2 linked regions of the Homo sapiens genome follow. The protein of the gene in region 2 interacts with the protein of the main gene of each other region in a pairwise test. Each region holds a gene or a part of one and is shown on either strand. Other genes may lie near its edges.

What was found. The genes of interacting proteins can lie anywhere in the genome.
Region 1: the proteins of FIRRM (region 2) and FIGNL1 interact in binary tests that used the Homo sapiens proteins (3 or more experiments, as listed by UniProt).

Annotation. Positions count from the first base shown.
Region 1 is NC_000007.14:50,443,633-50,447,350, forward strand, and holds the end of FIGNL1 (fidgetin-like protein 1), read right to left. Parts: intron 3,666-3,718; 5' UTR 3,656-3,665; coding exon 1,631-3,655; 3' UTR 501-1,630; downstream 1-500. UniProt on the Homo sapiens protein: Involved in DNA double-strand break (DBS) repair via homologous recombination (HR). Recruited at DSB sites independently of BRCA2, RAD51 and RAD51 paralogs in a H2AX-dependent manner. May regulate osteoblast proliferation and differentiation.
Region 2 is NC_000001.11:169,798,040-169,801,539, forward strand, and holds part of FIRRM (FIGNL1-interacting regulator of recombination and mitosis), read left to right. Parts: intron 1-817; 5' UTR 818-879; coding exon of another isoform or gene 880-919; intron 920-2,843; coding exon of another isoform or gene 2,844-2,866; coding exon 2,867-2,932; intron 2,933-3,500. UniProt on the Homo sapiens protein: Regulates PLK1 kinase activity at kinetochores and promotes faithful chromosome segregation in prometaphase by bridging kinase and phosphatase activities.

The sequences.
Region 1 (3,718 bases), on a different chromosome or scaffold from region 2:
AGGCAGAGGTTGCAGTGAGCTGAGATCACACCACTGCACTCCAGCCTAGGCAACACAGCGAGACTGTTTCAAAATAACCAAAACAAAACAAAAAATGAATTCTAATGAAAGACAATCACATATTACAAAGGGAAAAACTAAAAATTGCAACAATCTTTTAACATAAAAACAGAAGGCAAACCAAGAATAAAAATTTAAACTATATACACAAACTGTCTAAATTCAACAACTAAAAGTGTTTCAATTTGTCATTTCAAATTGCACTGTTCACAAGAGAAAACATTAGAACTTAAATATAACCTCCACGAGACCAAGGATATTTGTGTTGTTCATTGCTCTACGTTCACTACCTTCAGTTTTTTGAATAAATGCAAAAAGAATGCCAACAAATACCAAAACTGCCTACTGCCCAATGCTGCCATAGCTCTGATTCAGTGCAGATGGAGTTTTACACAGGAACTACTTTTTCAAGAGGACAATTTAGAATGCAAGCCAAAAGCTTTAAAAAGTGCATATTCTTTAATCCAGGAATTACTCAAGAAATTTATACATTTTTTAAAAAGATCACCAAATGCATCCCACATAGTTCCTTTACAATAAACAAAAGATAAACAACCTAGCGTCCTGTCCTATATGCGCTCTACCAGATGACTCAATTATATTCCATCCATCCATGGAATCCTAGACAATCATAAAAGGACATTTATGTTAACATGGAAAGTGAAGATACGCTTTGAAGAATAGGCTACAAGAGAGAATACATTACACAATCCTACTGCTGTATAAAACAAAACATCTGGAAGAATCTATGCTTAAATATTAATAGTGTGTCCCGCAAAGTGGTAGGATAATAGTGACTTTTATTCTTTTTACTTATCTCTATTTTCTCATGTTTCTGTAATGAACATGTTTCATAAAACAAAATGGGTCTGTTATAAAAATCTGAAAACTTGTTTTTGAAAGAGAGCAGTATTACAGGCTGTAGTGTCAAATAAAATATTAATGTTAAATATCACACGCTCCCGTGAAAATAACCAACATTCTTAATTAACCTTTCAGTTCTGTGAATCTAATACTAGATCACACCTTGCTATTTCTGAAAATGTTAGTCCTGATAAAAATTAAAAACCATAAAAGAGGTAACAAATTGGCTGAAGAAAGTAAAAATTGGCACTTTAGCTTTGAGATCTTAAATCTACTTAAATAACACTAAGCAATACTTTGTCCAAATGTAAACCATTATACTAGCTGACATTAAGAATTATGTGGCCATCAGAAGGCACTTTCTTCAATAAAAGATGAATATTAATCAGACACAACTTTATATGTAATCTTCAACTAAAAAAAATTTGAGCTCACTTTTCATGTTATATAGCTTCAAGATAAAGACTTCTTAGAAACAAAAGTTCATTCTCACTTTGTTCAAATAGGCTTACGTATCAGGTAATCACTGGAAAGCAAAACTTACATTAACATACACTATGTCAATCAGATGTAAAATCTGTGCTATTATTTGAAGTACAGAACTTAGAATATATTCTTAAAAATACAATTAACACATCCCCAACTTTCTATGCTAAAAAATAAAGAAGACTGTACTACAGAGATGCCTTGATTCCAAGTATCCCACTTACTTTCCACAACCAAAAGTTTTGTTCCAGTTTTCATAAAGCTCTAAATCTTTTGGAGAAACACTAGGTCGCACAGTTCTAAAAGCATTTTCAAAATCAATGTAAGCTATGGGTCGAACTTGATCCGGTGTTATGGTAGCAATGTCAGCAGTTTGTAAACTGCGAATAGGACCAAGAGAAGCCTCCCTGCAAAGCTGTGTCATGTCTGCTCCTGAAAACGCATCAGACTGCTGTACAATCTGTTCAATTTCTTCTTCACTGAGGCAACACTGCTCTTTGGACATTAGATTAATTACTATCTGTTTCCTGGCTGAAGCTTCTGGGAGGGGAATATAAAGCCTTTTCACCAATCTTCTCCGGGCAGCCTCATCAATTTCTTGTGGCCGATTTGTTGCTCCCACCACTAGGATACGATCTTCAGAAGATGTTGTTGCTCCATCTAATTGAACTAAAAATTCTGTTTTTATCCTTCTAGAAGATTCATGCTCACCATCTCCCCGTTGAGATAACAAGGAATCAATTTCGTCAATAAATATCACAGCTGGTTGCTGACACCTTGCAACAGCAAACAATGCACGGACCATTTTCTCCCCCTCACCTACCCATTTAGAAGTTAAGGATGAAGCAGAGATGCTAAAGAATGTTGCCCCAGACTGACTAGCAATGCACTTGCCAATTAGAGTTTTACCAGTCCCAGGAGGACCAAAGAGCAAAATTCCTTTAGGGGGTCCCCTTAAACCAGTAAAGATGTCTGGCCTCAACATGGGCCACACAACTATTTCCTTTATGGTGGCTTTAGCAAATTCTACTCCTGCAATATCTTCCCAATTTACTGGAGGTCCATGATCCATAATCTCATTCATAATAAGTTCAATCATCTTTGGCTCCAAGTTCTTCAGACGCTCATCAACTGGATGTGCTGGTTCTGTAGGTCCTGCCCCATAAGGCTTACATTGCATTCCTCCATTCTGCTCTCCCCCATCTTGCTTGGGTATAGGAGGAACAAACTTTCCAAGTATCCCTCGGGATCTACTAGCTCCTAGAGACTTTTTTACACCACCATATGAAGACCCTGATGCACGCTGAGGTTGGTGGTACTTTTTTTGCTGATCTACCCATAATTGTTCTTTTGCAGTTTTAAATGTAGGCAGGCTGCTATCCTCCTTTGGGCCATTATCTTCTGTTTTACTACAAGCCTTATTCAGTATTGGATTGGAAAGTGCATCAATGGTGCCAGAACCATAAAAAGACTTCCTCTGTGGATTTTCACAGGCAGCAGGAAAACAAGACTGGTTAGATAAGAACACATTAAGTCCTATGTTTTCTTTTGCAGAGCTGTGATTTTCCTTTTTGACATTTCCAAACAATGGTGTGACATGGAATTTTGCAGTAGCTGACTCACCTACAGGTGCTGAGAATGTAGGACAAGTCCTAGCAGTGTTAGTCACCATAGGTGGCTGGGCATTCTGAAGGAGTTTCAAACGATTGCTCTCCGGGAAGTCTTGGGTCCGGTCTCGATCATGAGCTGAGTTAGGTAATGAGTCACTCTCTTGAGAACTACCACAAACACTAAATTTAGGAAGATCAAAGACAGTGGCCTCCTTATGGATTACCACTGATGCAAGAGCAGGTTCCAACAGAGAGTCTTTGAATTTTTTGCCAGCTTGCATCATCTTCTGTACACTACTCATTTTGAAAACATTATTTATTGACAATCCAGACTGCCACTTGTCACTATCTGTTTGTTGAGATCCTGCCAAAGTTAAAATGTTTTCTGCATAATTATTCAACCCAGATTCAACATTGTCAGAATCAATAATTGCAGAATATTTCTCTGCATATTTTTTGAACAGTTTGGTAGCACAGACCTGGGAAATCTCAGAGTTTGCCCATGCATACTGAATGCGTAATATCTGTGCACGGTATGCATCTGCCTTCGGTCCGGTACATATGCCAGATGTAATTGCGAAGTAATTCTTCTGCCATTCACTCAGGTGCACAGATCTAGAGCTGGAGGTCTGCATTTTAGAGGTTCTATAACAAACAATAAAAATGAAAATCAGTATGAAGGAAAACAAAGAAAATAC
Region 2 (3,500 bases):
AAAGATAGAAGGTGATGAGTGACTTAGGTATAAATTAAGTACAATAGAAATGTTGAGGAAAGAAAAATTTCTTGTAATAGAAATCGGAAGTACAAACTGGGCATGGTGGTGTGCATCTCTAATCCCAGCTCCTTGAGAGGCTGGTATGGGAGGATCACTTTAGCCCAGGAGCTTGAGGCTGCAGTGAGGTGTGATCATGTCACCGCACTCCATCCTGGGTGACAGCAAGACCGTCTCTCTTTTTTTTTTTTTTTGAGACGGAGTCTCGCCTATGCTGGAGTGCAATGGCGCGATCTTGGCTCACTGCAACCTCTGCCTCCCAGTTTCAAGTGATTCTCCTGCCTCAGCCTCCTGAGCAGCTGGGATTACAGGTGTGCGCCACCATGCCCAGCTAATTATTTTGTATTTTAAGTAGAGACGGGTTCTCACCATACTGGCCAGGCTGGTCTTCAACTCCTGACCTCTTGTTCGCCCATCTAGGTCTCCCAAAGTGCTGGGATTACAGGTGTGAGCCACCCCACTTGGCCCCGAGCGAGACCCTCTCTCTAAAAAAAAATAAATAAATAAATCATAAACCTGTGGATTATTGTAGCATTGTTTCTCATCTGTCAAAAATATTTCATGACTATGCATAGTTTGAAAAGGCAAGTTTGTCCCTGGGCAATTTTCAAAATATTTCTTTAATGTGTTTTCACAATACTGTTTACCTAATAAATCTTAAGTTTTTAAAAGCAAAATTAAGCCAGTAATTTGAGTCCAATTCCAATCTCTTATGAGTCATTGCTTAAATTTCAAAAGGGTTTTATTTTTTTTTTAGGTTTGTTCTGAGTAATGAATACCCTATTACTATGATACTAGTATCTTCCTTAATTATCCTACTCATTGTCTCAACATTCTGACAGTTGGATTGAGCATATTCGTAAGTAAAATTGTTTTAACTGTATGATGTACTTTGATGTTAAGGTCCGAGTCCCCACATACCTCGGTAGATGTGTTCTTACAGTTTTGTATTCCCTTGAAATGTAACTGTTCTCTATGTTACAGCCTTTATAACCTTCAGTTACTTGAAATGAACAAATTCATTCAAATTCCAGCACTTAAAAGTTTTAAATTACATTTTGGATAAATACCAAAGTGTTTTGTTGATGATGTATGTATAAACAAATTGTAAATATTAAACGTTAGTTGTTACGATTAGACCTATATAAAACATGATATGCAGTCTACTGAATAGCTATCAGCCTCTAACATGTTTAGTGTCATTTAGAAAATGCTTTCTAAATTGCCAAAAGCTGATTGTCTAGGTGATAACAAATTTACCATTTGGAGGAAGTTGACTTTCTCATTTTCATGTCTTCATCAGTCTTACTTGATGAGATTCATTCTTCTAGTCAGAAGAGAGTTTAGACTGCTCAGTTTACTCATATTTTGAGTTAGCTTTTCTATTTAGAGTTCACTTGGTTGTGGAATATTCATTTATAATTTGAATCTACGTTGTGTAATGGGACCTAATTTTTTTTTCCTTTGTTTTTGTTGGAGTCTCGTTTTGTCACCCAGGTTGGAGTGCAGTGGCGTGATCTTTGCTCACTGCAACCTCCACCTTCCAGGTTCAGGTGATTCTCCTGCCTCAGTCTCCCAAGTAGCTGGGATTACAGGCATGCTTCACCACGCCTGGCTAATTTTTGTATTTTTAGTAGAGATGGGGTTTCACCATGTTGGCCAGGCTGGTCTCAAAACTCCTGAGCTCAAGTGATCCTCCTGCCTTGGCCTCCATAAGTGCTGGGATTACAGGCGTGAGCCGCTGAGCCTGGCCCCAGAGTTTGTTTTGTTTTGTTTTCAAGACAAGATCTCACTCTATTGCCCAGGCTGGAGAGCAGTAGTGCGATCATAGCTCACTGCAGCCTGAACTCCTGGGTTCAAGCTATTCTCCTGCCTCCATCTTCTAAAGTGCTGTGATTACAGGTCTGAGCCATGATGCTTGGCCTGTGTTTTTGTTTGTTTGTTTTGGGGGACAGGGTCTTGCTTTGTCACCAAAACTGGAGTGTAGTGGTGCGAACATAGCTAGCTCACTGCAGCCTCCATCTCCCACGCTCAAGCAATCCTCTCACCTCAGCCTTCCAAGTAGCTGAGACCGCAGGTGCGTGCTACCATGCGTGGCTAATTTTCTATTTATATATTTATTTTTTGGTAGACATGAGGTCTTGTCATGTTTCCCAGGTGGTCTTTAACTCCTGGGCTCAGACAGTCCTCCCGCCTCAGCCACCCAAAGTGTTGGGATTACAGGCGTGAGCCACCATGCGTGGCATAATTTTTTTTAAGTAAATTATTTTTTTATCTTGAGTATAGAAGTGATTCATGTTCATTGTGGAAAATATGAAACATATAGAAAAACAGAAAAGATTACAAAACATCTAATCTGAAATGGTTAAGATTTTGATGAGAACAGTCTCATCTCATTTCCGTATATTCCTGCCAGCCTATCCATCATTCTTCGTACATGTTTATCTACATTAAAATTGGTGTTATATTTTGGAAACTTTTTGTTTAACTACATTGTGAACATTTTTCATGTTTTAAAATGTCATTTTAATGATGGCAGATCCTATTCAATAGATGTACACACACCTATTTAACTGGTCCACAATTGTTGGATATGTAGGTCGTTTCCTTTCTCTCTTTTTTTTTTTTTTTGGCTACTACTTAATAGTTTCTCTGTATAGAATGTGGTATTTTGAAAGTGTATCAAGCTTTAGATTGGTAGTATTCTTGCATTTAATAAAGGGCAGTGGCCTTTGTTGACTGACATGACAATATTTTTATAAAATTTGTTATTTGCTTTACAGAAATTTTGAAAATTATTGTAGAAATGTTTTTACCTCATATGAACCACCTGACATTGGAACAGACTTTCTTTTCACAAGTGTTACCAAAGGTATAATACTATTACCTGAAAATACATGTTATAAGGAATCTAGCCTCAGTCTTAGATGATTTATTATTAATTATGGCTCTCTTTTTCTAATATATCAAATATATTCAAAATAAAAATAAGGAGTAAGTAGATCTCATGTGAGACTATAATGGTGTTAGTGTGATCATTAGGCAGTTAAAAACTGTTACAGGCTGGGCACGGTGGCTCATGCCTGTAATCCCAGCTCTCTGAGAGGCTGAGGTGGGCAGATCATCTGAGGTCAGGAGTTCGAGACCACCCATGGTCAACATGATGAAACCTCGTCTCTACTAAAAGTACAAAAAATTAGCTGGACATGGTGGCAGGTGCCTGTAATCCCAGCTACTTGGGAGACTGAGACAGGAGAATTGCTTGAGCCTGGGAGGCGGAGGTTGCATTGAGTCAAGATCGTGCCATTGCACTCCAGCCTGGGCAATAAGAGCGATGCTCCGTCTCAAAAAAAAAAAAAAAAAAAAAAGAACTTATATTTTCAGATTGTGTGGTTCCTTTACTAACTGAATTTAAATTATTTGTAGTCAATTTTAAATGC